7 linked regions of the Homo sapiens genome follow. The protein of the gene in region 7 purifies or fractionates together with the protein of the main gene of each other region. This does not show direct contact. Each region holds a gene or a part of one and is shown on either strand. Other genes may lie near its edges. The genes, in order: SERPINA3, FLG2, GUSB, IMPA2, PM20D1, GJA1 and SH2D3A.

Region 1 (3,500 bases), on a different chromosome or scaffold from region 7:
TCATGCCTCTTTCCCCCACTTTCCCTAAACCTTCTTTCTCTCTTGCACTCCTTATTCCCTGGTTCCTATTGATTTCTCATTTAGCACAAGGAACTAGGTCTTTCTTTTGTGGCCCTTTTCCCAATCCAAGCCTGCTGGGCTCTCCCTCACCCCCAATAACTTTTACTCTTGCCAAGCTACTTCTCTAAACCAAAGCAGGGTCCCTCCTATGAGGGACTCTGGGCACTTCCACTGCTGCGGAAGCAGGGTCGAGCAGGGCGACCCTTGCACTCACACCTTCTCCAACTGCTTGCTCCACCTTCAGCCAAATGGGAGATGCCCTTTGACCCCCAAGATACTCATCAGTCAAGGTTCTACTTGAGCAAGAAAAAGTGGGTAATGGTGCCCATGATGAGTTTGCATCACCTGACTATACCTTACTTCCGGGACGAGGAGCTGTCCTGCACCGTGGTGGAGCTGAAGTACACAGGCAATGCCAGCGCACTCTTCATCCTCCCTGATCAAGACAAGATGGAGGAAGTGGAAGCCATGCTGCTCCCAGAGACCCTGAAGCGGTGGAGAGACTCTCTGGAGTTCAGGTGATTCTTCCTGGCCCCCAAAGACCCCACATCTCTCCACGTCAAGGTCTCACCAATGTCCAGGGACAAGGGCATGGTGGTGGGAGAACTCATACAGGGACAGGTGGAATTTACACTTACTTTGCCCTATGCTGCCTACATGGCTTTGGGCTTGATTTTTCTTTTTCTTCTTTAAGACAATGACATCAGACAGGACAAGGGGCTGAGGCTTCCTCTGACTCCAGCATGTTCTAAGTCATGAGAAATCTTCTGCACAGTCCCAAACACTCATGCATGGTTTCTCCTGGTCTCAATCTCTTGAAGGGAGAGAGAAACAGAAGGAATTGTGATCAGTTGAGGGCTGCAGTGAGATGGACTCTGAGAATCAGTTCTGCACTGGTGAACCACTGTATTTATTCATTCTCTCAGCATTTGCTGCATGATTAATTGAGCACCTACTATGTGTCAGACACTAATTTGCACCCTGAGAGTAAATCAGCAAATAAAACACAAGATTCCCTGCCCTCCTGGAGCTTAATTTGTAATTGGAGAGGGGACAGGCAATAAATAAATATAACAAATAAGTTACGTGATATATTAGAAGGTGAGAAATTGAGTAAGGGGATAGAAATTGAGTAGAGGAGGATGAAAGGATCAGGAAAACTGGAACTCGTGTTAGTTTGTGATTTTAGATAGAGTAGCCATTAGGTGATGTTTGAGCATCCATATAACAGAGGGGAGGGGTGGAGTCATGTTGGTATATTAGGGAAAAGCATTCCTGGCAGAGGGAACAGTCAGTGCAAGGCCTCTGAGGTGGAAGTGAGCTTGATGTGGTCAAAGAAGAGTCAGGCCAGAGCAGCTGGGCTTCCACTTCCTCCATCTTGTCTTGATCAGGGAGGATGAAGAGTGCGCTGGCATTGCCTGTGTACTTCAGCTCCACCACGGTGCAGGAGCAGAGAGAGTGAGGAGAGAGTTGAGAGAGGTCAGGAGTCCCCAAAGGGGTGGAGCAGCTTAGGTAGGGCCACGTAGACCCCTAGAAAACCTTGCCCTTCCTCCTGTGTGTGAAATGGAGAGCCATCAGGAGGTTTGGAGGAGTGCTGCGATCCGAGTGTTGTTTTAAAAGACTAATCCTGGCTGCTGAGAGGAGAATAACTGTAGAGCAGGTATGGAGTCAGTGACACCCGCAGGAACCAGGCACAGACATGAGGTGGGAGCCCACTGTGGCTGGGATCCAGGAGGGAGCCATGCATGTGAGAAGTCATTGAGTTCTGGATAAATCTGAGGGTAGAGGAACTTGCTGGGACACACGGAATTGAGCTGACCGATTTCATGGGGACACAGTGAGGAGGAGCAGTAGTTCCGGGCCCAGACCCTGCAGTGGGCCCAGGGAGTGCATGTGGGCAGCTGTGTGGGGTAGAGAGGAAGGAGCACCAGCCTTGGGTTCAGACCGTGGTGGCTGGTGTGACCTGGAGCAGGTCGCTGCTCTTCTCTGGAGCTCAGCTACCTCCTGAAGAGAAAGGAATGTCCTTTCCCCACCACCCCTGTTTTCACTGGGTGATTGTGAGAATCCGGTGAGGTATTGTATGTTGAAGCCATAATAAACCACTAAGGGCAAGGGAGCTGCTTCAACACTAACCTGAGGCTGCAACCCCTGCCCCAACCACTGTCCAGAAGGCCGGACACCTCTCGGGATTGCCTGACCCTCAGCCCCTCCTCACTCTAGATCCCAGGAGACCCCAGAACGTGGGGGTCCTACCCAACCCATCCGTTTACTCCCAGACTCCTTCCTCCTTTAGCACCTAATAGCCACCAGGGAGCAGGGGCTCAGCAGATAATTTTGAGTGGAAAGAATTCTCCAAACACTTTTGATTTACAAAATGCTGAGGAAACATGTGTCCACACACTCCTGGCCCACAGAGAATGCTCAATAGATACTTGTTGAATGAAGGATGGAATGAACGGACAAACACATGAATGAATGAATAAAAATAGAAATAGGACACCTTCCTCCTTCAGGGGACTCAGAGTTTAATGGAAGACACAGCCTCCTGTATAATTGTAAGACCAGGCAGACAGTGACAGGCATCTTAAGAGGGCTATAAACTAAGGGAGGGGGAGTTTGCAGGTGGCAGGTGTGACCTGGGCCTCTAGGAGCTTGCTACCTGCTCTATGCCAGCCCACACCTGGCTTGAGGGACAGTGCCCACTGGTGAGGCAAGATGGGAACCTCCAATTGATTGTTTCAGGATCCCCAAAGCTCTTCTAACACAATCAGACTCTTCAGAGGCCCCCAGGCCCTTTTTGACCTGCCTCTGGCTCCTGGCCCACCTCATCCCTCACTACCCTCCTCCCTGAAACACTGAGATCACCCACCGCCCCGTGGAGCAACTCCTCCTGCTCCCACCTTCTTCCAGGTTCTTCCACCTGCCTCCTGCCCACCTCTTCACCTAGCTAGCTCCTTTCCTGCCTTTGGGACTCAGCCTCAACACCACCTCCTACAGGAAGCCCTCCTGGTGCCCCCGTGAAGCAGGCTGCCATGCAGCCACTGCAGCTGGCCCAGCCCAGGCTCTCAACACACTCAGGGGTCCCTGCTGGTGTGAAGGTGCTTCAACTGCATTGCAAGCTGCAGGGAAAGGGCAGGGCCAGGCTCGAGCAGGGCCACAACTCCAGGCTTGGTGTGCTGCCTGGAGACTTTCACACTTGCAGATCTGAATGAATAATTAATGAATAAGAAGAGTAAAGACAGGGGTTAAGAAATTGAGGAACAGATTATTTATTTTCCAATCAGAAGGGGGTGACTGTAGAGGAAACCAGGGAAGACCATGCTGCGAGGTGGGAGGCAGGTAGGTACTGATCAGCAGAGGTTCAGATACTTTTTTTTTCTCGTTTTCTAGAGAGATAGGTGAGCTCTACCTGCCAAAGTTTTCCATCTCGAGGGACTATA
Region 2 (4,424 bases), on a different chromosome or scaffold from region 7:
AAGCTGACTATGGCCTGCAACAAGGTCCTCAGCAAAGAATACTGCAAAGCTTCAGGGTCAAAGAAGCATAGGCGTGGTCACCGACACCAAGAAGAAGAAAGTGAAACAGAAGAGGATGAAGAGGATACACCAGGACATAAATCAGGTTACAGACATTCAAGTTGGAGTGAGGGAGAGGAGCATGGATATAGTTCTGGGCACTCAAGGGGAACTGTGAAATGTAGACATGGGTCCAACTCCAGGAGGCTAGGAAGACAAGGTAATTTATCCAGCTCTGGGAACCAAGAGGGATCTCAGAAAAGATACCACAGGTCCAGCTGTGGTCATTCATGGAGTGGTGGCAAAGACAGACATGGTTCCAGCTCTGTAGAACTGAGAGAAAGAATAAACAAGTCACACATTAGCCCTTCTAGGGAATCTGGGGAGGAGTATGAATCTGGATCTGGATCAAACAGTTGGGAAAGGAAAGGTCATGGTGGTCTGTCATGTGGATTGGAGACTAGTGGGCATGAATCAAACTCTACTCAGTCAAGAATTAGAGAACAAAAGCTTGGGTCTAGCTGTTCAGGTTCAGGAGACAGTGGGAGGCGAAGTCATGCATGTGGTTATAGCAATTCAAGTGGGTGTGGAAGGCCACAAAATGCTTCAAGTTCTTGTCAGTCACATAGATTTGGAGGGCAAGGAAATCAATTTAGCTATATTCAGTCAGGCTGTCAGTCAGGAATTAAGGGAGGACAAGGCCATGGCTGTGTCTCAGGAGGTCAGCCCTCTGGATGTGGTCAACCTGAGTCTAACCCCTGTAGTCAGTCCTATAGTCAGAGAGGATATGGAGCTAGAGAAAATGGTCAACCACAGAACTGTGGAGGACAATGGAGAACAGGCTCAAGTCAGTCCTCTTGCTGTGGACAATATGGGTCTGGAGGTAGCCAGTCTTGTAGTAATGGTCAACATGAATATGGTTCCTGTGGCCGCTTTTCAAACTCTTCTAGTTCAAATGAATTTTCCAAATGTGATCAATATGGGTCTGGTTCAAGTCAGTCTACTAGCTTTGAACAACATGGAACAGGCTTGAGTCAGTCCTCTGGGTTCGAACAACATGTATGTGGCTCAGGTCAAACTTGTGGCCAGCATGAGTCTACATCAAGTCAATCCTTGGGCTATGACCAGCATGGGTCTAGCTCAGGTAAGACATCTGGCTTTGGACAACATGGGTCTGGCTCAGGTCAGTCCTCTGGCTTTGGACAATGTGGGTCAGGCTCAGGTCAGTCCTCTGGCTTTGGACAGCATGGGTCTGTCTCAGGACAATCCTCTGGTTTTGGACAGCATGGGTCTGTCTCAGGACAATCCTCTGGTTTTGGACAACATGAGTCTAGATCACGTCAGTCTAGCTATGGCCAACATGGTTCTGGCTCAAGTCAATCATCTGGCTATGGCCAATATGGGTCTAGAGAGACATCTGGCTTTGGACAACATGGGTTGGGCTCAGGTCAATCCACTGGCTTTGGCCAATATGGATCGGGCTCAGGTCAGTCCTCTGGCTTTGGACAACATGGGTCTGGCTCAGGACAATCCTCTGGCTTTGGACAACATGAGTCTAGATCAGGTCAGTCTAGTTATGGCCAACACAGTTCTGGCTCAAGTCAGTCATCTGGCTATGGCCAACATGGGTCTAGACAGACATCTGGCTTTGGACAACATGGGTCAGGCTCAAGTCAATCCACTGGCTTTGGCCAATATGGATCAGGCTCAGGTCAGTCCTCTGGCTTTGGACAACATGTTTCTGGCTCAGGACAATCCTCTGGTTTTGGACAACATGAGTCTAGATCAGGTCATTCTAGCTATGGCCAACATGGTTTTGGCTCAAGTCAATCATCTGGCTATGGTCAACATGGGTCAAGTTCAGGACAGACATCTGGATTTGGACAACACGAGTTAAGCTCAGGTCAGTCTTCCAGCTTTGGCCAACATGGATCAGGCTCAGGTCAGTCCTCTGGCTTTGGACAACATGGGTCTGGCTCAGGACAATCCTCTGGCTTTGGACAACATGAGTCTAGATCAGGTCAGTCTAGCTATGGCCAACACAGTTCTGGCTCAAGTCAGTCATCTGGCTATGGCCAACATGGGTCTAGACAGACATCTGGCTTTGGACAACATGGGTCAGGCTCAAGTCAATCCACTGGCTTTGGCCAATATGGATCAGGCTCAGGTCAGTCCGCTGGCTTTGGACAACATGGGTCTGGCTCAGGACAATCCTCTGGCTTTGGACAGCATGAGTCTAGATCACATCAGTCCAGCTATGGCCAACATGGTTCTGGCTCAAGTCAATCATCTGGCTATGGTCAACATGGGTCAAGTTCGGGACAGACATCTGGCTTTGGACAACACAGGTCAAGCTCAGGTCAATACTCTGGCTTTGGACAACATGGATCAGGCTCAGGTCAGTCCAGTGGCTTTGGACAACATGGGACTGGCTCAGGACAATACTCTGGTTTTGGACAACATGAGTCTAGATCACATCAGTCTAGCTATGGCCAACATGGTTCTGGCTCAAGTCAGTCATCTGGCTATGGTCAACATGGGTCAAGTTCAGGACAGACTTTTGGATTTGGACAACACAGGTCAGGCTCAGGTCAATCCTCTGGCTTTGGCCAACATGGATCAGGCTCAGGTCAGTCCTCTGGCTTTGGACAACATGAGTCAGGCTCAGGAAAATCCTCTGGCTTTGGACAGCATGAGTCTAGATCAAGTCAGTCTAATTATGGCCAACATGGTTCTGGCTCAAGTCAGTCATCTGGCTATGGTCAACATGGGTCTAGTTCAGGACAGACAACTGGCTTTGGACAACACAGGTCAAGCTCAGGCCAATACTCAGGCTTTGGACAACATGGATCAGGCTCAGATCAGTCCTCTGGCTTTGGACAACATGGGACTGGTTCAGGACAATCCTCTGGTTTTGGACAATATGAGTCTAGATCACGTCAGTCTAGCTATGGCCAACATGGTTCTGGCTCAAGTCAATCATCTGGCTATGGTCAACATGGGTCAAATTCAGGACAGACATCTGGATTTGGACAACACAGGCCAGGCTCAGGTCAGTCCTCTGGCTTTGGCCAATATGGATCGGGCTCAGGTCAGTCTTCTGGCTTTGGACAACATGGGTCAGGCACAGGTAAATCCTCTGGCTTTGCACAGCATGAGTACAGATCAGGTCAGTCTAGCTATGGCCAACATGGTACTGGCTCCAGTCAATCATCTGGCTGTGGCCAACATGAGTCTGGCTCAGGTCCAACCACAAGTTTTGGACAGCATGTGTCTGGCTCAGACAATTTCTCTAGTTCTGGACAACATATATCTGACTCAGGTCAGTCCACTGGATTTGGCCAATATGGTTCAGGCTCAGGTCAATCAACTGGCTTGGGCCAGGGTGAATCTCAACAAGTAGAGTCAGGATCCACAGTTCATGGGAGACAGGAAACTACTCATGGTCAGACAATAAATACCACTAGACATAGCCAGTCTGGTCAAGGACAATCCACACAGACAGGGTCCAGGGTAACTAGAAGACGAAGATCTAGCCAAAGTGAGAACAGTGACAGTGAAGTGCACTCAAAGGTCTCACACAGACATTCAGAACACATTCACACACAAGCTGGATCTCACTACCCAAAGTCAGGATCCACAGTTCGCAGAAGACAAGGAACTACTCATGGACAGAGAGGAGATACCACTAGACATGGCCATTCTGGTCATGGACAGTCTACACAGACAGGTTCCAGAACATCTGGAAGACAGAGATTTAGCCACAGTGATGCCACTGACAGTGAAGTGCACTCAGGGGTCTCACATAGACCACACTCACAAGAACAAACTCACAGCCAAGCTGGATCTCAACATGGAGAGTCAGAATCCACAGTTCATGAGAGACATGAAACTACTTATGGACAGACAGGAGAGGCCACTGGACATGGCCACTCTGGTCATGGACAGTCCACACAGAGAGGGTCCAGGACAACTGGAAGAAGGGGATCTGGCCATAGTGAGTCCAGTGACAGTGAAGTGCACTCAGGGGGCTCACACAGACCACAATCACAAGAACAAACTCATGGCCAAGCCGGATCTCAACATGGAGAGTCAGGATCCACAGTTCATGGGAGACACGGAACTACTCATGGACAGACAGGAGATACCACTAGACATGCCCACTATCATCATGGAAAATCCACACAGAGAGGGTCCAGTACAACTGGAAGAAGGGGATCTGGCCACAGTGAGTCCAGTGACAGTGAAGTGCACTCAGGGGGCTCGCACACACATTCAGGACACACTCACGGCCAAAGTGGATCTCAACATGGAGAGTCAGAATCCATAATTCATGACAGACACAGAATTACTCATGGACAGACAGGAGATACCACTAGACATTC
Region 3 (4,013 bases), on a different chromosome or scaffold from region 7:
ACCCGTGTGGTTGACCTCGCTAGGAGAAGAGGGGTCTGGCCTAACGTCACACAGCTCGGGGTGGCAATCCTGTCCCTTCTCTATGGTGCTACTCTCACTCCATCTCCCCTTGCTACACATCGTGCTCAAGGAACAGGCAGCTTCGGTGGGGGGGGCGCCGGGCATGGTGGCTTATGCCTGTCATCCAGCACTTTGCAAGGAGGCCCTGGTATAAGGATCACTTGAGGCCAGTAGTTCAAGAGCAGCCTGGGCAACATAGTGAGGCCATCACCACAAAAAATTAAAAAATTAGCCAGGGATGGTGATGTGTGCCGGTAGTCCCAGCTGCTGAGGCAGGAGAATCACTTGAGCCTGGGATGTCAAGGGTGCAGTGAGCTATGACCACACCACTGCACTCTGGTCTGGGCAACAGACGCAGACCCTGTCTTTCTTTTTTTCTTCTTTTTTTTTTTTGAGCTGGAGTCTCGCTCTGTCGCCAGGCTGGAGTGCGATGGCGTGATCTTGGCTCACTGCAACCTCTGCCTCCCGGGTTCAAGCGATTCTCCTGCCTCAGCCTCCCGAGTAACTGGGATTATAGGCACCCGCCACCACGCCCGGCTAATTTTTCTATTTTTTTTTAGTAGAGACAGGGTTTCACTCTATTGGCCTGACTGGTCTTGAACTCCTAACCTCAGGTGATCCACCCTCCTCGGCCTGCCAAAATGCAAGGGTTACAGGCGTGAGCCACTGTGCCCAGCTGGGATACCCTGTTTTTTTTGTTTTTGTTTTTTGTTTTTGAGATGGAGTCTTGCTCTGTTGTCCAGGCTGGAGTGCTGTGGCGTGTTCTTGGCTCACTGCAACCTCCGCCTCCCGGGTTCAAACAATTCTCTTGCCTCAGCCTCCTGAGCAGCTGGGATTACAGGCGTGTGCCACCACGTCCAGCTAATTTTTGTATTTTTAGTAGAGATGGGGTTTCACCATGTTGGCCAGGCTGGTTCAACTCCTGACTTCGGGATCCACCCGCCTCAGTCTCCCAAAATGCTGGGATTACAGGAATGAGCCACAGCGCTCGGTCTGTATTTAAGAAAAATTTTTGTTTTAAGTTTTTTTTCTTTTTAAAAATATATCTTTTTCAGGGCGGGCGCGGTGGCTCATGCCTGTAATCCCAGCACTTTGGGAGGCCAAGGTGGGGGGATCACGAGGTCAGGAGATCGCGACCATCCTGACTAACATGGTGAAACTCCGTCTCTACTAAAAATGCAAAAAATTAGCCGGGCATGGTGGCAGGGGCCTGTAGTCCCAGCGACTCGGGAGGCTGAGGCAGGAGAATGGCGTGAACCTGGGAGGCAGAGCTTGCAGTGAGCTGAGATTGCATCACTGCACTCCAGCCTAGGGGACAGAGCGAGACTCCATGTCAAAAAATAAAAATAAAAAAATATATATATATCTTTTTCTTTTTCTGAGATGAGGCTTGCACTGTGGCCCAGGCTGGAGTGCAGTGGTGAGATTATTGACAGCCGTTGTGGGGCCGCGGTTCTAAGTTTAAAAGAATTTAGGCTGGGTGTGGTGGCTAATGCCTGTCATCCCAGCACTTTGGGAGTCCAAGGTGGATGGATCGCTTTAGCTGCAAAGTTTGAGACCAGCCTGGGCAACATACTGAGACCCTATCTAAGAAAAAAATAAATAAATAAAATAAAATAAATGAATAAAAAAGAATTTAAAAAAGAATCCCACAGCAAAGACAATGCACCATAGAGCAATTTATTGCCAAGGAAAGGTATTTTGGAAGTTAAGTTTAGAACAGCCTGGGTGCACTGGCTCATGCCTGTAATCCCAGCACTTTTGGAGGCCGAGATGGGTGGATCACTTGAGCTCAGAAGTTCAAACCAGCTTAGCCAACATTAGCTGGACATTGTGGTGTGAGCCTGCAATCCCGGCTACTCAGGAGGTTGAGATGGGAGAATTGTTTGAACCCGGGAGGTGGAGGTTGCAGTCAGCTGAGATTGCAACACTGCACTCCAGCCTAGGTGACAGAGTGACACCCCCATCTCAAAAAAAATAGTGAAGTGCAAAATGCACAGTTCACCCTGAGACACAGAATTCAGGACAGGCTGCTCGTAAGGATGAGACAGCACCGATTATTACTGGGGAAACTCCCTTTCTGGGAGTCTTCCGTGATGAATTCCTAAGGAGCTGGGAAGAGGTGTTACTGTAAGCACGTTCTGGGCCGTCCTCTGGTTGCACATGCGTAGTAGCTGTACATGCTTGTTCACACGTCACGTGTCTCAGTGCCGTGGTTGGCATGTCTGAGGGACACGGTCACTTCCTTGACTACCTATCCTGCCTCAAGATCATAGCTCACTGCAGCCCCGAACTCCTGGCTCAAGCAATCCTCCCACTTCAGCCTCCCAAGTAGCTGGGGCTGCCGGGGCTGCAAGCACGCACCACCACGACCGGCTGATTGTTTGTATTTTTAGGGAAGAAGTGGTTTCCCTATGTTACCCAGGCTGGTCTTGAACTCCTGGTCTCAAGCGATCCTCCCACCCCAGCCTCCTCAAGTGTTGGGATTACAGGTGTGACCACTGCACCTGGCCAAAATCTTTTTTTAAATTAAAAAAAGCACCGGGTGCGGTGGCTCACACCTGTAATCCCAGCACTTTGGGAGGCCAAGGCGGGTGGATCACCTGAGGTCAGGGGTTCAAGACCAGCCTGGCCAATATGACAAAACCCATCTCTACTAAAAATATAAAAATTCGCCAAGCATGGTGGTGCACGTCTATAATCCCAGGTACTTGGGAGGCTGAGACAGGAGAATCACCTGAACCCCAGAGGTGGAGGTTGCAGTGAGCCGAGATCATGCCACTGCACTCCAGCCTGGGGGACAGAGTGAGACTCCGTCTCAAAAAAAAAAAATAAGAAATTAAATTTAAAAAAAGCAACAGAAACAAATGGCTGCCTGGCAGCGGTGGCTGCAGGGCGCTCCTGTTTGTGTGACTCAGGTCGTGTCCCTCCCTCAGCCCTGGTCTCTCTTGTTTCTTGCAGGGCTGGTGAATTACCAGATCTCTGTCAAGGGCAGTAACCTGTTCAAGTTGGAAGTGCGTCTTTTGGATGCAGAAAACAAAGTCGTGGCGAATGGGACTGGGACCCAGGGCCAACTTAAGGTGCCAGGTGTCAGCCTCTGGTGGCCGTACCTGATGCACGAACGCCCTGCCTATCTGTATTCATTGGAGGTAATGGTGGTTTGGGACATGCCTAAGGGAGGTCTTTTGCCCCCATGTGGTGACCCTGGCTTCAGCAGGAGCCCAAGACAGGTGGATGGGCAGGCATGGTCCTCTGAGCTTTCTGATGTTTCTCACCCTTGGTGGGAGGCCCATTTTCTTTTTTTTTTTTTTTTTTGAGATGGTCTCACTCTGTCACCCAGGCTGGAGTGCAATGGCCTGATCACAGCTCACTGCAGCCTTGAACTCTCAGCCTGCAGCAGTCCTCCTGCCTTGGCCTCCTGAGTAGCTGGGACTACAGGCACATGCCACCATGTCTGGCTAAATAAAAAAAATTTTGTAGCCTGGGCAGAGTGACTCATGCCTGTAATCTCAGCATTTTGGGAGGCTGAGGTGGGTGGATCACTTGAGGCCAAGAGTTCAAGACCAGCCTGGCCAACATGGTGAAACCCCATCTCTACTAAAAATATGAAAATTTGCTGGGCATGGTGGCGAACACCTGTAATTCCAGCCACTCGGGAGGCTGAGGCAGGAGAATTGCTTGAACTCAGGAGGCAGAGGCTGCAGTGAGCTGAGATCACACCACTGCACTCCAGCCTGGGGGACAGACTGAGACTGTCTCAGAAGAAAAACATTTTTTTTTTATAGAGATGGGGTCTCAGTCTGTCAGCAGGCTGGTCTTCAACTCCTGGACTCAAGTGATCCTCCTGCCTTAGCCTCCCAAAGTGTGGGAACTCCAGGCATGAGCCACCTTGTCTTGTCAAAGGGAAGGCCATGTTTTGAAGGGCAGGTTCCCAGGGTCAGCCAGGGTAGGGC
Region 4 (4,424 bases), on a different chromosome or scaffold from region 7:
GAGCCCTGGGGTTAGAGGTTACTGTGAGCTGTGATTGTGACACCACACTTCGGCCTGGGTGACAGAGAGACCCAGTCTGTAAAACAAAACAAAGCAAAACAAAACAAAACAAAAAGGAGAAGAAAGGCCTGGGCTGGACCAGAACTGGTCCCTCTGGAGTTGTCCAGGGACTGATTAGCCACTCTTTATCCCTTCCTGTTTGGGTTTTCCTGGGGTTCTTGGGACCATCCCAGTCCTTGCTCCTATGTATAGCTGTGATGGGTTTAGACCAGTGTGTTGGCAGCTTGCACAGCTGCGGAGCCTGTGTCGGAGCTCAGCCCTGTGGATCCTTGCATGAACTCTGAGACAGCTGATGCTGCTCCAGCCCAGAGCGCAGTGAGAGCTGGCCATGGTTCCTGAAACACAGTTTAGCTCTCCCGGGTTTCTCAGTGGGAACATTTACAATCAGATTCGAGGGCATATCCCATTTCATGGGATAAAGTGAATTAGGGAAAATAAGCTTTTACTTTACACTGAAATCTCCTAAATTTGAATTCATGGGATTATACAGGGCACAGGTGTGTAACATGATCTTGTTTTGGGCCGTTCTTACAGAGGAAGTTTCATGCTCTTTTCAAAACCCCTGTGTTTTTCTTTTACTCGAAGAGAAGTTGTTTCACAGGTGCAACAAAATAATTTTGAAATAATTTCAAGTAATGGAGAAATAATTTTTCTTGTAAAAGAATAATGGTGGAGTCATTAAGGCTCACTAGAAACCCAGAGAGCCTAGGCTGTGATATTAGCTCTGAGGTCAATGATGCAAGAAGTCAGTGACCCACAGAGCCACACCTGCTGCCCCCGCCGCCCCCCCCCCCCCCCCCCACCCAATGGCAGGCTGAATACAGAGGGGACTCGAAGGAGTGGATAATTCCTTTGCCTGGGAGGAGGATGTTTGCATGTTTAACCCAAATCCCGTACTTTTATTTCAGATCATCAGAAAAGCCCTTACTGAGGAAAAACGTGTCTCAACAAAAACATCAGCTGCAGATCTTGTGACAGAAACAGATCACCTTGTGGAAGATTTAATTATTTCTGAGTTGCGAGAGAGGTTTCCTTCACACAGGTAGGTGTACTCCTCTGGGAAACACCCCCAGTAACCCTGGCCACACTCATAGAGAATGCAGGGTCTGCCGGGGTCAGGGGGCTCTGCTGTTTGTTGATGTGGCCAGACGTGAAGCCCTAAGCCACGCAGCCTAACCTGCGATTTGTCAGTTACTTAGTAAGCAAACTCAGCCCTGTTTTCATTCTTTTTACTGTCATCTTAACAACCATCACGTCAATGCATCCTCTTGTGAATATTGAAGCAGCTCTTTTTACAACACATGCTCAGGAAAAGCTCCTTGCACCCCTGTACTCAACCATTTGTTATTTCTGGAAGGACCCACTAGAAGTGTGACCCACCCTAAGAAGCCTGGAGTGGTGATGTCCCCTGGTGGCCTATGCCTGTTCAGCTGCCTGGGCAACTTTCCCAGGAGGATGGGATGCCAAGTGGCACTGGCAGCCGCGTGGGGCCCCCGGCCCACCACTAGTGCTTAGTGATGCACGCCCCCTCGCCCAGGCCAGAGGGCGCAGTGGGAATGGCTGCCACAGCCGGGCCCCAGAGCTGTCCCTGCAAGAGGCCTGTATGAGCACCTCTTAACCTTTTTGGGGTCACCCTTTGAGTATTTGATGCTAGCTATTAATCTTTTGTTCAGAAAAATTAAAATATTTACACAGCATTTTGCATAGCATTTTAAGGGAGCCATGAACCCCAGATTGAGACATCTTCTTTAACTCTGGGGGGCTCTAAGGCCCCTCTCTCACCTCTAGAGTTCTGCAGTATAAATGCTGAAGACCATGCAAGGGATCTTTTTTCTTCGTTACATAGAATCTTTTAAAGATGTTGGATTCTTAAAACTGGAATACCAGTTATTGGATTTCTGGCTGTAGGGTATTATAACTGTCAGGTTCCAGGTTTAGATGGACTTAGGTGGCAGAAATATAGATGGTACTCTCCCTCAGTGTCCATTCAGCACATGGTAGGCTTAAAATACTTTTCTTTACATTTATTTTTATATATTTTTTAAGAGATAGGGTCTTGCTCAGTTGCCCAGGTTGGAGTGCAGTGGCATGATCATAGCTCACTGCAGCCTTGAACTCCTGGGTTCCAGTGATCCTCCTGCTTCAGCCTCCTGAGTAGCTGGGATTACAGGAGCCACTCCACCTGGCTCTTTTTTTTTTTTTTTTTTTTCTGTGAATGATTATATAAATGAAAGAACAAGCGAGTGTTAAACACTTACCTTCTTTTTTTTTCCCGTCGTTTCCTTCTAACTTGTTAGGTTATCTCAAGGTTACCAGCTCTCCCTCTGAATTTCTGTTTGCCAGTCGCTCATGTTTGTTTTGTTGACAACCTTTGAGTTTAAGCTTCTCTAACTTCCTATTTCCCTACTCTGCTTGAGGTCAGGATCCCAAGAATTGGTTACAGTAGTTATAGGGTGTAAAGTGTTTGTGATTTTTTTTTTTTTTTTTTGAGATGGAGTCTTGCTCTGGCGTCCAGGCTGGAGTGCAGTGGCGTGATCTTGGCTCACTGCAAGCTCCACCTCCCGGGTTCACGCCATTCTCCTGCCTCAGCCTCCTGAGTAGCTGGGACTACAGGTGCCCGCCACCACGCCCAGCTAATTTTTTGTATTTTTAGTAGAGACGGAGTTTCACCTTGTTAGTCAGGATGGTCTCGATCTCCTGACCTCATGATCCGCCCGCCTCGGCCTCCCAAAGTGCTGGGATTACAGGTGTGATCCACTACGCCCGGCCCCAGTGTTTGTGATTTTTAAAAAGCCTTTTAAAACCTAATTTTAGGGTGGCTCACACCTGTAATCCCAGCACTTTGGGAGGCTGAGGCGGGCGGATCACGAGTGAGGAGTTCAAGACCAGCCTGAACAACATGGTGAAACCTCGTCCCTACTAAGAATGCAAACATTAGCCGGGTGTGGTGGCGTGGGCCTGTAATTCCAGCTACTCGGGAGGCTGAGGCAGGAGAATTGCTTGAACCTGGGAGGCGGAGGTTGCAGTGAGCCGAGGTCACACCACTGCACTCCAGCCTGTGTGACAGAGCAAGACTCTGTCTCGAAAAATAAATAAATAAACCTAATTTTAATCAAAGGGCAATAGCAAAAGAATTTATCATATGGATTCTTTGAGAGGAAGCATGCTGCAGTAACGAGCCGGCTGTTTCCAGGTCCTTTATTAACCATATTGGCCTAGAGGTTTCTGCGGTGATGATCCGTGTGGCCGTGGCATGGGAGGGCTGGCTCATCTGCGTGGGGTCTGGTAAAGGCTTGGAGGAGATGCAGGATCAGGCACAGTGAAGTTATTGGGGCTGTGATGTGTTTCAGTCAGGTCACTTGGACAAACTGCACTCTGAGATTGCACGCAACCCACTGTTGGGTTAATGTGTGCAGTTGGTTCCATTTGTAAAAGGTAAATTTAGATACTCGCTGTTGTGTACACAAGGTAAAAGTTAATGTATTATGGGGTGAGCACAGGTACCTCCCTCCACCCTTGAGGCCTTAGGGTTGCCAGGGACCGCCAGACTCCAGAGTTCCTTGGGAAAACCATGATGCAGAGCAGGGGATTATAGGTAGGGTGAGACAGGCTTACCTGGGAGCGTGCCCGGGCTGAACACCAGCCTCCATCTCTGAAAAGGCCCCCTGGTAGGGTCAGACCCACACACCTGTCCAGGAATCAGTGATTGAAATCTGGGGTTCCCAAGCTCTAGCCCACAAGTCAGTGGACTGTGGCTGCACCACGGACAGCCCCAGTCTGTGTGTCACCCCCATCTTCCCTAGCTCTGAGGGTGAATGTGTGGACACGGTGAAAGCAGCTGTTCTCTTCTCTGCTCAGTGTGCCTCAAAAATTGACATCAAATGCAGTTGTTTTTCAACATATTTATGTGAAGTGAGTTTTTTTTGCCAATGACTAAGATTAAAAAGAAAGTAAATTTTGGGGATTTAATTGTATTTTAGATCATAGAAAAGTTGATAAATTTGTGATGAGAGAAAATTGTATACATATTGTAAAATAGGACATTGTGATTTTTTTCTGCTTTCTAAGTATTTAAATATATCCCTTAAACAATATATTTAATTTGAAGTTGCCTCTCATCCTCCTTTAGGAAAGACTTTTATTCTGAGCTTTTCTCTTTCCTTGATTTTAGTCTTTCATGAAATGATATTAAAAATAGACTTAATAACATTTTTTTAAAAACCTGATACAGGCTCCCCAGTTTTATTATTTTATTTCACTCATCCATGAAATCCAAAGGTTTGCTCCTTGACCTGGAAGACAGGTGTAGACTGAATCAAAGAATGATAAGGTTTAAACTTCCTTCTGGTGGGGTGCAGTGGCTC
Region 5 (3,728 bases), on a different chromosome or scaffold from region 7:
TCTTTCCCAAGGAAACGAAGCAAAGAGAGAAAACTTGAATACAAGTATCATAACTTCTGACTTTTTGTCTGTGTTGAGCTCATCTTCCTGGCTCCAGTGCAGCTGGTTACAAACAGGAAGCAGAAATGCCCAGAGAGGGGGAAAAAAGTGTGTGACCCTTTTATTACCTGTCTGAGGTTCTCCGAGGCTGAAGCCAGGTCATCACATCTATTCCCCAGCCTCGAGATGATTGACATTCTGCTGTGTCTTCGACACTTTCATCCAGCCTGTGGCTCACCACCCAAGGGGAAAGATACATAACTTCCTGATTTTCCAATTCCCATCCAACTTTCCATCGAAGGGATATCTCACCAATGCCCTTGGAAGGAGATTCCATGTTCCTGGCTGAAATGGTGCTTTTCGTAAGAATAGCTATAGGCTTTCAAGAGAGCCCAGGCATTGCTCTGTAGTGACCCAGTAGTCAATTTTCCAGCCAGGCCATCCCCTTGCCACTTCGTTGGTTTGATTGCTCATGTAAATTTGTTCCAATTCAAGATCTGATTCATGACTGTAAGACAAGTCTCCCAAAACATTTAACCTAAATCTATCATGCTGTAGGTTGCTTTCCAGGAAGACCCAGCTCTTACATCACCTATAGCCAGTCAGCTGAAATTGAAGTCCCAGTGCTTAAAAAAAATAAGTCCTGTCTGTAAACCCTGAGGCTCTGCCTTGCTGGAAAGAAATCAGGATATTTAAGCCCATATTGTACATGTATAGAAATCAATAAGAAATCGAACCCCCTTTGTTTCTACCCTGGAGGTCCTAGAACTCACGAAGAACATTGTGGCTGATAACAGAGTCCAGTTCCATGTGTTGAGTGCCTTTGACCCCCTCCCCGTCAGCCCTTCTGATGACAAGGCCTTGGGCTACCAGCTGCTCCGCCAGACCGTACAGTCCGTCTTCCCGGAAGTCAATATTACTGCCCCAGGTAATGACTTCATCAGCTGTGGCTGGAGGGAGGAGGGGGCTGGAACTGTTTCCTATCCAATGTCTACTTCCCCACCCCCACCCTAGATGTTCAGCCTGTAAACAGCTGGCTGCTTCCCCTCCTGATGAGACTAGAACTGTATTTTCCCTTCAGAGTGGAAGTGAGAACGCAAACAGGAAAGGAACAGAAATAATAAATTAGGTCAGTCAAGCCTGGGTCCTTGCTTAACCTAGGCCAGCCACTCTGGCATAGAGGGGAGAATTGGCTTAGACTACTCCCTCCTCTCTAGGAGCCACAGAAGGGGCCAAGATCTTCCCAGAGTCTGGTTCTGATCCATTCTAGGATAACAGCTCAGCAGGAGAGCTCAGAATCCTCAGCTCAGAAAAGCCTCCCAGCCCATACCATTTGCCTTAACCTAATTTACGTTTCCCAGCCCAGACCAATCCCAGCAGCACCCCTCTGTTCCCCTTCTGCAGCCTTCTAGCACCCCATCCAAATCTGTGCTTTGCAGACAGTGGTTCTCCAATCTAAGAGTGGAATAGGTCTCCCCAGTGAACTATTAAAATGCAGATTACCTGGACCCACTACAAAGATTTGGGTTAACCAAATCTGGAAGGGACCCTGGAATTTGCCTTTTTCACAAATACCCCCAGGAGATTCTGACACAAGGTGATGACTAACTATAGTTTGAGAATCTCTGGTCAATGGTTATTGCTCTAATATTAAGACATTGCTCAGCCGGGCACGGTGGCTCACACCTGTAATCCCAGCACTTTGGGAGGCAGAGGCGGGTGGATCATGAGGTCAGGAGTTCAAGACCAGCCTGACCAATATGGTGAAACCTCGTCTCTACTAAAAATACAAAAATTAGCTGGGCGTGGTAGCTCACGCCTGTAGTCCCAGCTACTCGGGAGGATGAGGCAGGAGAATCGCTTGAACCCAGGAGGCAGAGGTTGCAGTAAGCCGAGACAGCCCCACTGCAGTCCAGCCTGGGTGACAGAGCAAGACTCTGTCAAAAAAAAAAAAAAAAAGGAGAGAGACGTTGCTCAATAATAATGATATTGCTCAATTATTAATGCTCTAATATTAAGGCCTGTGTCTAGTTTTCTTTTCTCTTGGTTTAATCAGAGATTCCTCCAAACATCCAGGAACCCGGCCCTCACAATCCCAGATTCTCCTCTCTTGGCCCTCAAAGGCTACCTACTCTATTCTCTTTCTTCTGGAGCACTTACTGTAATCCACCAATGGGGCCAGGCTTTTGCAGAAAAAAGATAGGCAGCAATCAACCACAAAGCAAGGAACTTGAAGGGCCTGGATGTCCATTTGAAACCAGGAGTGGAAGATGGAACAAAACACAAATTACCATCTCAAATCACCGCACACACTTGAATTGATCCTCCAGGGTGTCTTTTCCCAAAGAACACACCTATGGGCACAAGTCCCAGCCTCTGCTAGGTGACCTGCTACCACCTTCAGGAGAGTGGGAAACTGGAAAGAGAGTATCCTGGCACTTTCCAGACCTAAGGTTTGACTCTAGGAAGACTTCAGAGGATGAGAATAACAGGAAATTTTGTTCCAATTCAAGACGGTGATATTTTATAGTAGTAAAGTTCTCCCAGAGGGTATTTATTTCTGACCTAGAGTGATACAGAATAAAGGTCAGGTGATAAAGAAGTGCTATCTAGATTCTGGTTTCTTAAATAGCAAATGGCCATGGCCTTGGGTATGAAATGAAGATACTGGCCACCCTGGGCGTCATGGGGAACAGCAAACAGCCATGGCCTTGGGTATGAAATGAAGATACTGGCCACCCTGGGCGTCATGGGGAACAGCAAACGGCCATGGCCTTGGGTATGAAATGAAGATACTGGCCACCCTGGGCGTCATGGGGAATAGCAAATGGCCATGGCCTTGGGTATGAAATGAAGATATTGGCCTCCCTGGTCGTCATGGGGAGAGGACACTTCCAAGGGCATTGGTGAGACATCCCTTGAATGGTCCATCCAAGGGATGTCTCACCAATGCCCTTGGAAGGAGATTCCATGTTCCTGGCTGAAATGGTGCTTTTTGTAAGGATAGCTATACGCTTTCAGGAGAGCCCAGGCATTGCTCTGTAGTGATCCAGTAGTCCTGATTTTCCAGCCAGGCCACACCCCAGCCACTTCGCTGGTTTGATTGCTCATGTAAAGCCCCTTTCCTGTTGATCTTCCCTCTCTAGTTACTTCTATTGGCAACACAGACAGCCGATTCTTTACAAACCTCACCACTGGCATCTACAGGTTCTACCCCATCTACATACAGCCTGAAGACTTCAAACGGTGAGTGGAACAGGTTTGAGCAGCAGGTGGGAGAAAAGAAATACACTTGATGTGTCCTTTTCCTACCCCATGCTCCTGGCAGTCCACAGAATCAGGGGGAAAGCCAGGATTTGGCAAAATGAAATGGAGACATTGTAGAACCTAACCCATCTACTGTCCTTATTGCCAGAGTCTCATTGTCACCCCCTAGAATTTATGGAAATTGGCCCCTCTTTTACAAAGATGGAGATAATTGGGTGATTGGGGAGAACCTGGTGGAATCGGTACCCTTGGGTGCTAATCCCAGCTCTTCCTCTCTTTGGGAGAGGGCTTATCCTCTGGACCCCGTTTTCTCCACTTACAAAATGGGGAGACTCCTCAGCATTTTCTGAAATGCAGACACATATGAGGTCAAAGGTGGATGCGTGTTTTGACTTCTCAGAAGAAAGCACTATGGAAATCCA
Region 6 (2,291 bases), on a different chromosome or scaffold from region 7:
TTTTTAATAAGGCTGTGAGTAGTATTGAGACAAAATGAACTTTTTACATGAAGTGTGATGTGTATTTAGTCTTTGTTTTTCAAAGTAGGTTACTACATATAATGACACATTGTAGCAAAAGAGTATATTTCCATACAGCCTACTTTTTCTCTGGACAGAAGGCTGACTTCTGAGCTACATAAGTCACTGCTTAAGAAAAAAATAGTCACCATTGCTTGGGAGGCTAAGGCAGGAGGATTTCTTGAGCCCAGGGGCCTGGGCAACATAGTGAAATCCTATCTCTAAAAAAAGAAACAGAAAAGTGTAAATGACAATAATATAGGGTATGCACAAATTACACTTGATATACCATTGAAAAATCTTCCAGAGGCCAGGCGTGGTGGCTCACACCTGTAATCCCAGCACTTTGGGAGGCTGAGGTAGATGGATCACCTGAGGTCAGGAGTTCGAGACCAGCCTGAGCAACATGGAGAAACCTCATCTCTACTAAAAATACAAAATTAGCCAGGCGTGATGGCACATGCCTGTAATCCCAGCTACTTAGGAGGCTGAGGCAGGAGAATCGCTGGAACCTAAGAGGCGGAAGTTGTGGTGAGCTGAGATTGTGCCATTGCACTCCAGCCTGGGCAACAAGAGGGAAACACCATCTTAAAAAAAAAATCTTTCAGAGTGAAATTAGTAATAAAATGATATATAATAGCATTAAGGTTTTGGAAAGAAGGTTATGGATGTGTGTTTATAGGTATTCTTACCTGGATTCTTGATACCTATGCTTTGAATAACACACATCAGGATTTTGCTTAGCAAACACAGATCTACCAGGCAAAAACTGTCCTCATTTATCAGACAAATAAAAGGAGCAGAGGCTTAGCACAGGTGGCTTCTCAAGTCACACAGCAAGGCAGTGGTTGAGCAAGCAATACACCTTCCCAGGTTAAAGACTGCAACTCATCATCTGTTGCTTCTAAGACTTACTTTGTCTCAACAAACAAAACAAAACACTTGTTAGATCTTTTCTTCGTTGGCAAAAATGGGACAGGAAGAGTTTGCACTTGGTTTTTTGTGAAAGAATGTTAGAAATACGTGAAACCGTTGGTAGTATTTTGACTATCACCTGAAAGGTACTAAATGTTAAACTAGTAATTTGCAATCTGTGATCCTTGAATTGTCTCTTTGTTTCTTTCAGGTGGTGCCCAGGCAACATGGGTGACTGGAGCGCCTTAGGCAAACTCCTTGACAAGGTTCAAGCCTACTCAACTGCTGGAGGGAAGGTGTGGCTGTCAGTACTTTTCATTTTCCGAATCCTGCTGCTGGGGACAGCGGTTGAGTCAGCCTGGGGAGATGAGCAGTCTGCCTTTCGTTGTAACACTCAGCAACCTGGTTGTGAAAATGTCTGCTATGACAAGTCTTTCCCAATCTCTCATGTGCGCTTCTGGGTCCTGCAGATCATATTTGTGTCTGTACCCACACTCTTGTACCTGGCTCATGTGTTCTATGTGATGCGAAAGGAAGAGAAACTGAACAAGAAAGAGGAAGAACTCAAGGTTGCCCAAACTGATGGTGTCAATGTGGACATGCACTTGAAGCAGATTGAGATAAAGAAGTTCAAGTACGGTATTGAAGAGCATGGTAAGGTGAAAATGCGAGGGGGGTTGCTGCGAACCTACATCATCAGTATCCTCTTCAAGTCTATCTTTGAGGTGGCCTTCTTGCTGATCCAGTGGTACATCTATGGATTCAGCTTGAGTGCTGTTTACACTTGCAAAAGAGATCCCTGCCCACATCAGGTGGACTGTTTCCTCTCTCGCCCCACGGAGAAAACCATCTTCATCATCTTCATGCTGGTGGTGTCCTTGGTGTCCCTGGCCTTGAATATCATTGAACTCTTCTATGTTTTCTTCAAGGGCGTTAAGGATCGGGTTAAGGGAAAGAGCGACCCTTACCATGCGACCAGTGGTGCGCTGAGCCCTGCCAAAGACTGTGGGTCTCAAAAATATGCTTATTTCAATGGCTGCTCCTCACCAACCGCTCCCCTCTCGCCTATGTCTCCTCCTGGGTACAAGCTGGTTACTGGCGACAGAAACAATTCTTCTTGCCGCAATTACAACAAGCAAGCAAGTGAGCAAAACTGGGCTAATTACAGTGCAGAACAAAATCGAATGGGGCAGGCGGGAAGCACCATCTCTAACTCCCATGCACAGCCTTTTGATTTCCCCGATGATAACCAGAATTCTAAAAAACTAGCTGCTGGACATGAATTACAGCCACTAGCCATTGTGGACCAGCGACCT
Region 7 (5,137 bases):
TCTGGAAATTCCCTGCTTTGCAACCTACAGGCATCAAAACTTTTCATCCCCAAGCATCGTTGGCCCTCTAGGCCTCAATTTCCTCATCTGTAAAATGGTGGGTGAGTAACTTTCACCGCAAAGCAGCATCGTGGAGAAAGTGGGCATGCGAAGATTGAAAAGGAGGCAGACAGGATAAAGCTCCAGAGCTCCGGGTTTGAATTTCGCCTCTACCACTTACAAGCCAGGTTAACTTGGGCAAATGGTTTAGTTGCCCTGTGCCTCAGTTTCTCCATCTGGAAAATGGAAGTGATGAAAATACTACCTACCACCCTTACAGGGTGGTCTGTTTGAAAATTAAAATAGAGGCCTCATGCCTGTAACCCCAGCACTTTGGGAGGCCGAGGCAGGTGGATCACATGAGGTCAGGAGTTTGAGACCAGTCTGGCCGAGACCCCATCTCTACTAAAAATACAAAAATTAGCCTGTAATCCCAGCTACTCGGGAGTCTACAGCCGGAGAATCGCTTGAACCGGGGAGGTGGAGGTTGCAGTGAGCTGAGACTGCTGCCACTGCACTCCAGTCTGGGCAACGAGAGTGAAACTCCATCTCAAAAAATAAAATAAAATAAAATAAAGGCAAGTTGACAGAACAGCCCTTGTGTACAGTAAGTGCTCAATAAATGTTAGCTGCTGCTACTGCTTTTAAGACTGTGGTTACTGGGGCCAAGCACAGTGGTTCATGCTTGCTTGTAATCTCAGCGCTCTGGGAGGCCAAGGCAGGAAGTTCGCATGAGCCCAGGAGTTCCAGAGCCTGGGCAGCATAGTAAGACGCCACATCTACAAAAAATAAAATAAAATCAGCTGGGTGTGGTGGTGTGCACCTTTAGTCTCAGCTGCTTGGAAGGCTGAAGCGGGAGGATAGCTTAAGCCCAGGAGGTTGAGGCTACAGTGAGCTATGATCACCACTGCACTCCGGCCTGGGCAATATAGCAAGACCCTGTCTCTACAAGACAAGACTGATGTTAATATGAGGAACTCATCAATAAACGTGGCCAAAGAGTCCTCTCTCTTGCACTAGGTCCCTGTCACCTTTTCTCTTGTTCGTCTCCAGGCATCACGATGGAAGTCCCCCCCACCCTTCTTCCCACCTGGGAAACCACCTGAATGATTTGCCTTCCACCTCCACCAAAGTCCCGCCCCGCTCCAGCGTGCTGTCACTGAAGGAAGCTGTCGCGTTTTCCCGGACGTCTCTCCACAAAACCCGCCACCTAAATGGGGCTTCTTTCCGGAAAATCCGGGAGGGCGGTCTGGAGGAAGCGTACCCCTCCTTACGTCACAGCTGCCGCAGCTACCCCAGCCTGGCGTAAGAGCCCGAGGGAGTTGCCCTGCCCTGACCCGGAGCCTTGGCGGGGAGGGGAGAGAGGCACCCCACTCCACCCCGCCCTGGTCCCAAAGGGCCATGGGTGCTTGGGGCCGCCTGGGTGGAAGGGAGGGGCAGGGTTCTAAGGGGCGGGAACGTTGGGATGAAATTTCTTCTATTGCCCTAAGGGGCGGGGCTGAGAAGGAGGTGGCTGCGGGTGGGCGTAGTCATTCGGCGGTGGTCGTGGCTATATACAAGGGGAGGGGCCACTGGCAGGAAAGGATGCGTGGTGCTCCCCTAGTGGGCGGGGTCTATGGAGAAAGCGGTGCGATGCAGAAGGAGGCGTGGCTAGTAGCAAAAAAAATGGTTTTAAGGGGGCGGAGCAAGGGCCTGGGAAGTTAGTTTGAGGCGGGGCCCGCAGGGGGCGGGGTCTGCAGGAGGTGTGGTCAGGTAACTGGGCTGAGTTCCCACTAGGTGTGGTCTGGGAAGGCTGGGGCGGTGGCAAGGTGGAGGGCGGGGGTGACAGCAGCCCGGAGCCGCGGAGCCTCAGCTTCCGCCTGGACCCAGCCTCGTGGGAGCCCCGCGGGTCCTGCCCAGGTGAGTGGAGCCCCAGGGCAGATCCAGAACCAGGATTATTGGGATGGGGAGTCCTCTCTTTCCAGGTGGGGTCACCGGCTCGCAGGGAGGATCTGGGGTAGAAGAGGTCGCCTCGCGAATGAGAGGGTCGCTGTGCGTTACGCGTGTCGGTGTGCTCGGGCTCACCTGGGCGTGCCTCTCTAAGTGTATTTCCTGTGCAGCACAGAAAGCCATTGTTTCCATTTTTGCCTGAGTGATCCTCTTAAACGGCGAATCAGATCGGGCCCCTCCTTCACTTAAAACCCTTGGGTCATAGAGATTAAAATTCAAAGTCCACTAGTTTTTGCCTAGTCTCTCCTCCTGATCTCTCCAACCTCATTGCCCTCCTATCTACTCCTTCCTCATCGTATTCCGGCTACACCAGCCGCCTTGATGATGTAAAATGTAAAAAGCAAGTCCATCTCAGCTCCAGGCCTTTACCCTTACTGTACCCCTCACCCAGGCGACTCCTCCAAATCTTTGCCTAACTGCCTCCTTCTGTACTGAGGTCTCAGTTCCAATGTCACTTTATAGGAGAGGCTGTCCTGTCCAGCCTCCTCTATCACATCTCCCTGGCTTATCACTTTCATTGATAACTCTTAGAAATGGTCTGTCTTCTCCATTCATCTTGTGCTCGTTTGCAGTCTGTCTTGCGCAGCCGACTGCAAGCTCTGGAGGGCAGGGTGGTGCCGAGCTTTAATCTCCTTAGTCACTGTATCTCTAGGTCCTAGAACAGAGCCTGGTGCACAGCAAGTGCTCCAGCAATGGTCGTCCAACGTCAAAAGCGAGTCCTGCCTACATCTGTGTTTGTGTTGCCTGTGCTGGTGGTTCCCACCCTCCACGTCCTCCCCACACGTGGACACATGTTTATGATCCAACTGGAACATGAATAATCCCCTCTCTCCTCTCTCTATGCTTGGTCTGATTCCTGATTCTGCCCGTTTCTTCTCTTCCGTGCCCGAATAAATGATCCCAAAGGACTCAGAGGCAGGAGATGGCTTAGTTGGCCTTTGGCTGACCTATGGCCACCCTGTGTCCTCAAACTAACCAGAACCTTGCCATTGACTCAACTTCACTCTCACTAAGGGAGACACAAGACAGGAACTTGGGGTTGGGAAACTCTGCGACCGAGGCTAGCCCTGGTCCAGGTGACAAACAGGAAGTGCGCAGGCATTGCAAAGACACACCTGGCTTCAGGTATGCGGCACTGGCAGCTGGCTCCCTGCCCAGCGCTCCTCCCCTAAAGCCACCTAGGGCTGGTCTGGGAACTTCCTGCTGACTCAGGAGGCAGGAATTTCTCTGCAGACCCCACCAGAAGACTTTGCAGGGCTGCAGGGAGAGCTTGCAGGAGAGTAAGAAGCAGATTATCTTCTTCTGGACCATCCAGAGAAATCTCCCCCACCAGACACCTGAGACACACTGGCCCTGAGGCCTGTGAGATTATCGGGAAACTACCAAAATGTCTGAGATCCAAATTCAATCATCATGATAACCACATGTATGGGCTCCGAAATAGAAGGATCTGCAAAGGCAACATTGCTGTTTGCTGACATTGCTACAAAATGTGACCTTTTAAAAATCTTAACCCTGGGGTTACATTCTTTTTTTTTTTTTTTTTTTTGAGACGGAGTCTTGCTCTGTCACCCAGGCTGGAGTGCAGTGGTGTGATCTCGGTTCACTGCAGGGTCTGCCTCCTGGATTCAAGCGATTCTCTCTCCTCAGCCTCCTGAGTAGCTGGGACTACAGGCACACGCCACCATGCCTGGCTAATTTTTGTATTTTTAGTAGAGACGGGGTTTCACTGTGTTGACCAGGCTGGTCTCAAACTCCTGACCTCAGATGATCCACCCACCTCTGCCTCCCAAAGTGCTAGGATTACAAGAGTGAGCCACCGCGCCTGGCCCCCAGCGTTGCATTCTAAAGCAAAGAATAGGGGTTAGATCTGCACCTATCCTGAGAACCTCTGAGTGTGCGCATAGGTTGCCGAGAAGCCATGGATGTTTGTAAGTTAAATTCCCCCTGACTGGGATGTTTTTTCACCCAGAGTCACCTGGCACACTCCCCAGAATTCCTTCCAGACTTTACTCAATGAGACCTTTCCTGGTCACATGATCAAAAATGTTCACCCAGCCTGGGCAACGTGGCAAGACCCAATCTCTACATATATATTTAAAAATTAGCCAGGCACAGCCAGACGCAGTGGCTCATGCTGGTAATCCCAGTGCTTTGGGAGGCTGAGGAGGGTGGATCACCTGAGGTCAGGAGTTCGAGACCAGCCTGGCCAACATGGAGAAACCCCATCTCTATTAAAAATATTTTAAAAATTAGCCAGGCATGGTGGCACACACCTGTAGTCCCAGCTACTGAGGAGGCCGATGCACGAGAATTGCTTGAAACCAGCAGGCGGAAGTTGCAATGAACTGAGATCATGCCACTGCACTCCAGCCTGGGCAACAGAGTGAGACTTGATCTCAAAAAAAAAAAAAAAAAAAAAAATTAGCCAGGTACAGTGGCCCACGCTCATAGTCCCAGCTACTCAGAAGGATGAGGTGGGAGAATCACTTGAGCCCAGGAGGTCAAGGCCGCAATGAGCTGTGATTGCACCACTGCAGTCCAGCCTGGGCAATAAAGCAAGACTCTGTCTCAAAAAAAAAAGAGTGTTCACCCTAGCACCTGTACTTTCATTATATCCCATCCATGGTTTAGTTTTTTTGTCTAGCACTCACTCATGTATGCCATCATCTAGTTCTTTTCTGAGGTGCTGCTCCCCAGTAGAATGTCAGCTCCCAAGGACAGAGATTTCCATCTGTTTTGTTCAATGCTATGTCTCTAGGGCCTAGAACAGAGCCTGGGACCCCATAAGGTGCTGAATAAATAGGGGTTCAGTGAATTCATTAATTACATTTCTGCAAGATGGGGTGGCATGTTGTCATCTTCAGCCATTTTTTTTTTCTTCGATTGCATTATATTTGGAACAGGCACGATGGTGACATCTGTAATCCCAACTACTTGGGAGGCTGAGGCTAGAGGATTCCTTGAGCCCAGGAATTCAAGGCTAAAGTGTGCTATGATCACACCTGTGAATAGCACTGCACTCCAGCCTGGGCAACACATAAGACCTCTCTCTTTAAATGTAAAAAAAAAAGTCTGCGTGCAGTGGCTTATGCCTGTAATCCCAGCA

Evidence for each region.
Region 1: the proteins of SH2D3A (region 7) and SERPINA3 purify together in Homo sapiens (affinity purification with mass spectrometry; one large-scale study listed by BioGRID and IntAct). This does not show direct contact.
Region 2: the proteins of SH2D3A (region 7) and FLG2 purify together in Homo sapiens (affinity purification with mass spectrometry; one large-scale study listed by BioGRID and IntAct). This does not show direct contact.
Region 3: the proteins of SH2D3A (region 7) and GUSB purify together in Homo sapiens (affinity purification with mass spectrometry; one large-scale study listed by BioGRID and IntAct). This does not show direct contact.
Region 4: the proteins of SH2D3A (region 7) and IMPA2 purify together in Homo sapiens (affinity purification with mass spectrometry; one large-scale study listed by BioGRID and IntAct). This does not show direct contact.
Region 5: the proteins of SH2D3A (region 7) and PM20D1 purify together in Homo sapiens (affinity purification with mass spectrometry; one large-scale study listed by BioGRID and IntAct). This does not show direct contact.
Region 6: the proteins of SH2D3A (region 7) and GJA1 purify together in Homo sapiens (affinity purification with mass spectrometry; one large-scale study listed by BioGRID and IntAct). This does not show direct contact.

The regions. Positions count from the first base shown.
Region 1 is NC_000014.9:94,618,891-94,622,390, forward strand, and holds part of SERPINA3 (alpha-1-antichymotrypsin precursor), read left to right. Parts: intron 1-304; coding exon 305-578; intron 579-3,450; coding exon 3,451-3,500. UniProt on the Homo sapiens protein: Although its physiological function is unclear, it can inhibit neutrophil cathepsin G and mast cell chymase, both of which can convert angiotensin-1 to the active angiotensin-2.
Region 2 is NC_000001.11:152,353,125-152,357,548, reverse strand, and holds part of FLG2 (filaggrin-2), read left to right. Parts: coding exon 1-4,424. UniProt on the Homo sapiens protein: Essential for normal cell-cell adhesion in the cornified cell layers. Important for proper integrity and mechanical strength of the stratum corneum of the epidermis.
Region 3 is NC_000007.14:65,975,211-65,979,223, reverse strand, and holds part of GUSB (beta-glucuronidase isoform 1 precursor), read left to right. Parts: intron 1-3,021; coding exon 3,022-3,209; intron 3,210-4,013. UniProt on the Homo sapiens protein: Plays an important role in the degradation of dermatan and keratan sulfates.
Region 4 is NC_000018.10:11,998,086-12,002,509, forward strand, and holds part of IMPA2 (inositol monophosphatase 2), read left to right. Parts: intron 1-968; coding exon 969-1,102; intron 1,103-4,424. UniProt on the Homo sapiens protein: Phosphatase that can use myo-inositol monophosphates, myo-inositol 1,4-diphosphate, scyllo-inositol-1,4-diphosphate, glucose-1-phosphate, beta-glycerophosphate and 2'-AMP as substrates in vitro.
Region 5 is NC_000001.11:205,829,837-205,833,564, reverse strand, and holds part of PM20D1 (N-fatty-acyl-amino acid synthase/hydrolase PM20D1 precursor), read left to right. Parts: intron 1-798; coding exon 799-967; intron 968-3,185; coding exon 3,186-3,285; intron 3,286-3,728. UniProt on the Homo sapiens protein: Secreted enzyme that regulates the endogenous N-fatty acyl amino acid (NAAs) tissue and circulating levels by functioning as a bidirectional NAA synthase/hydrolase.
Region 6 is NC_000006.12:121,445,646-121,447,936, forward strand, and holds part of GJA1 (gap junction alpha-1 protein), read left to right. Parts: intron 1-1,186; 5' UTR 1,187-1,202; coding exon 1,203-2,291. UniProt on the Homo sapiens protein: Gap junction protein that acts as a regulator of bladder capacity. A gap junction consists of a cluster of closely packed pairs of transmembrane channels, the connexons, through which materials of low MW diffuse from one cell to a neighboring cell.
Region 7 is NC_000019.10:6,764,188-6,769,324, reverse strand, and holds the start of SH2D3A (SH2 domain-containing protein 3A), read left to right. Parts: upstream 1-1,889; 5' UTR 1,890-1,938; intron 1,939-5,137.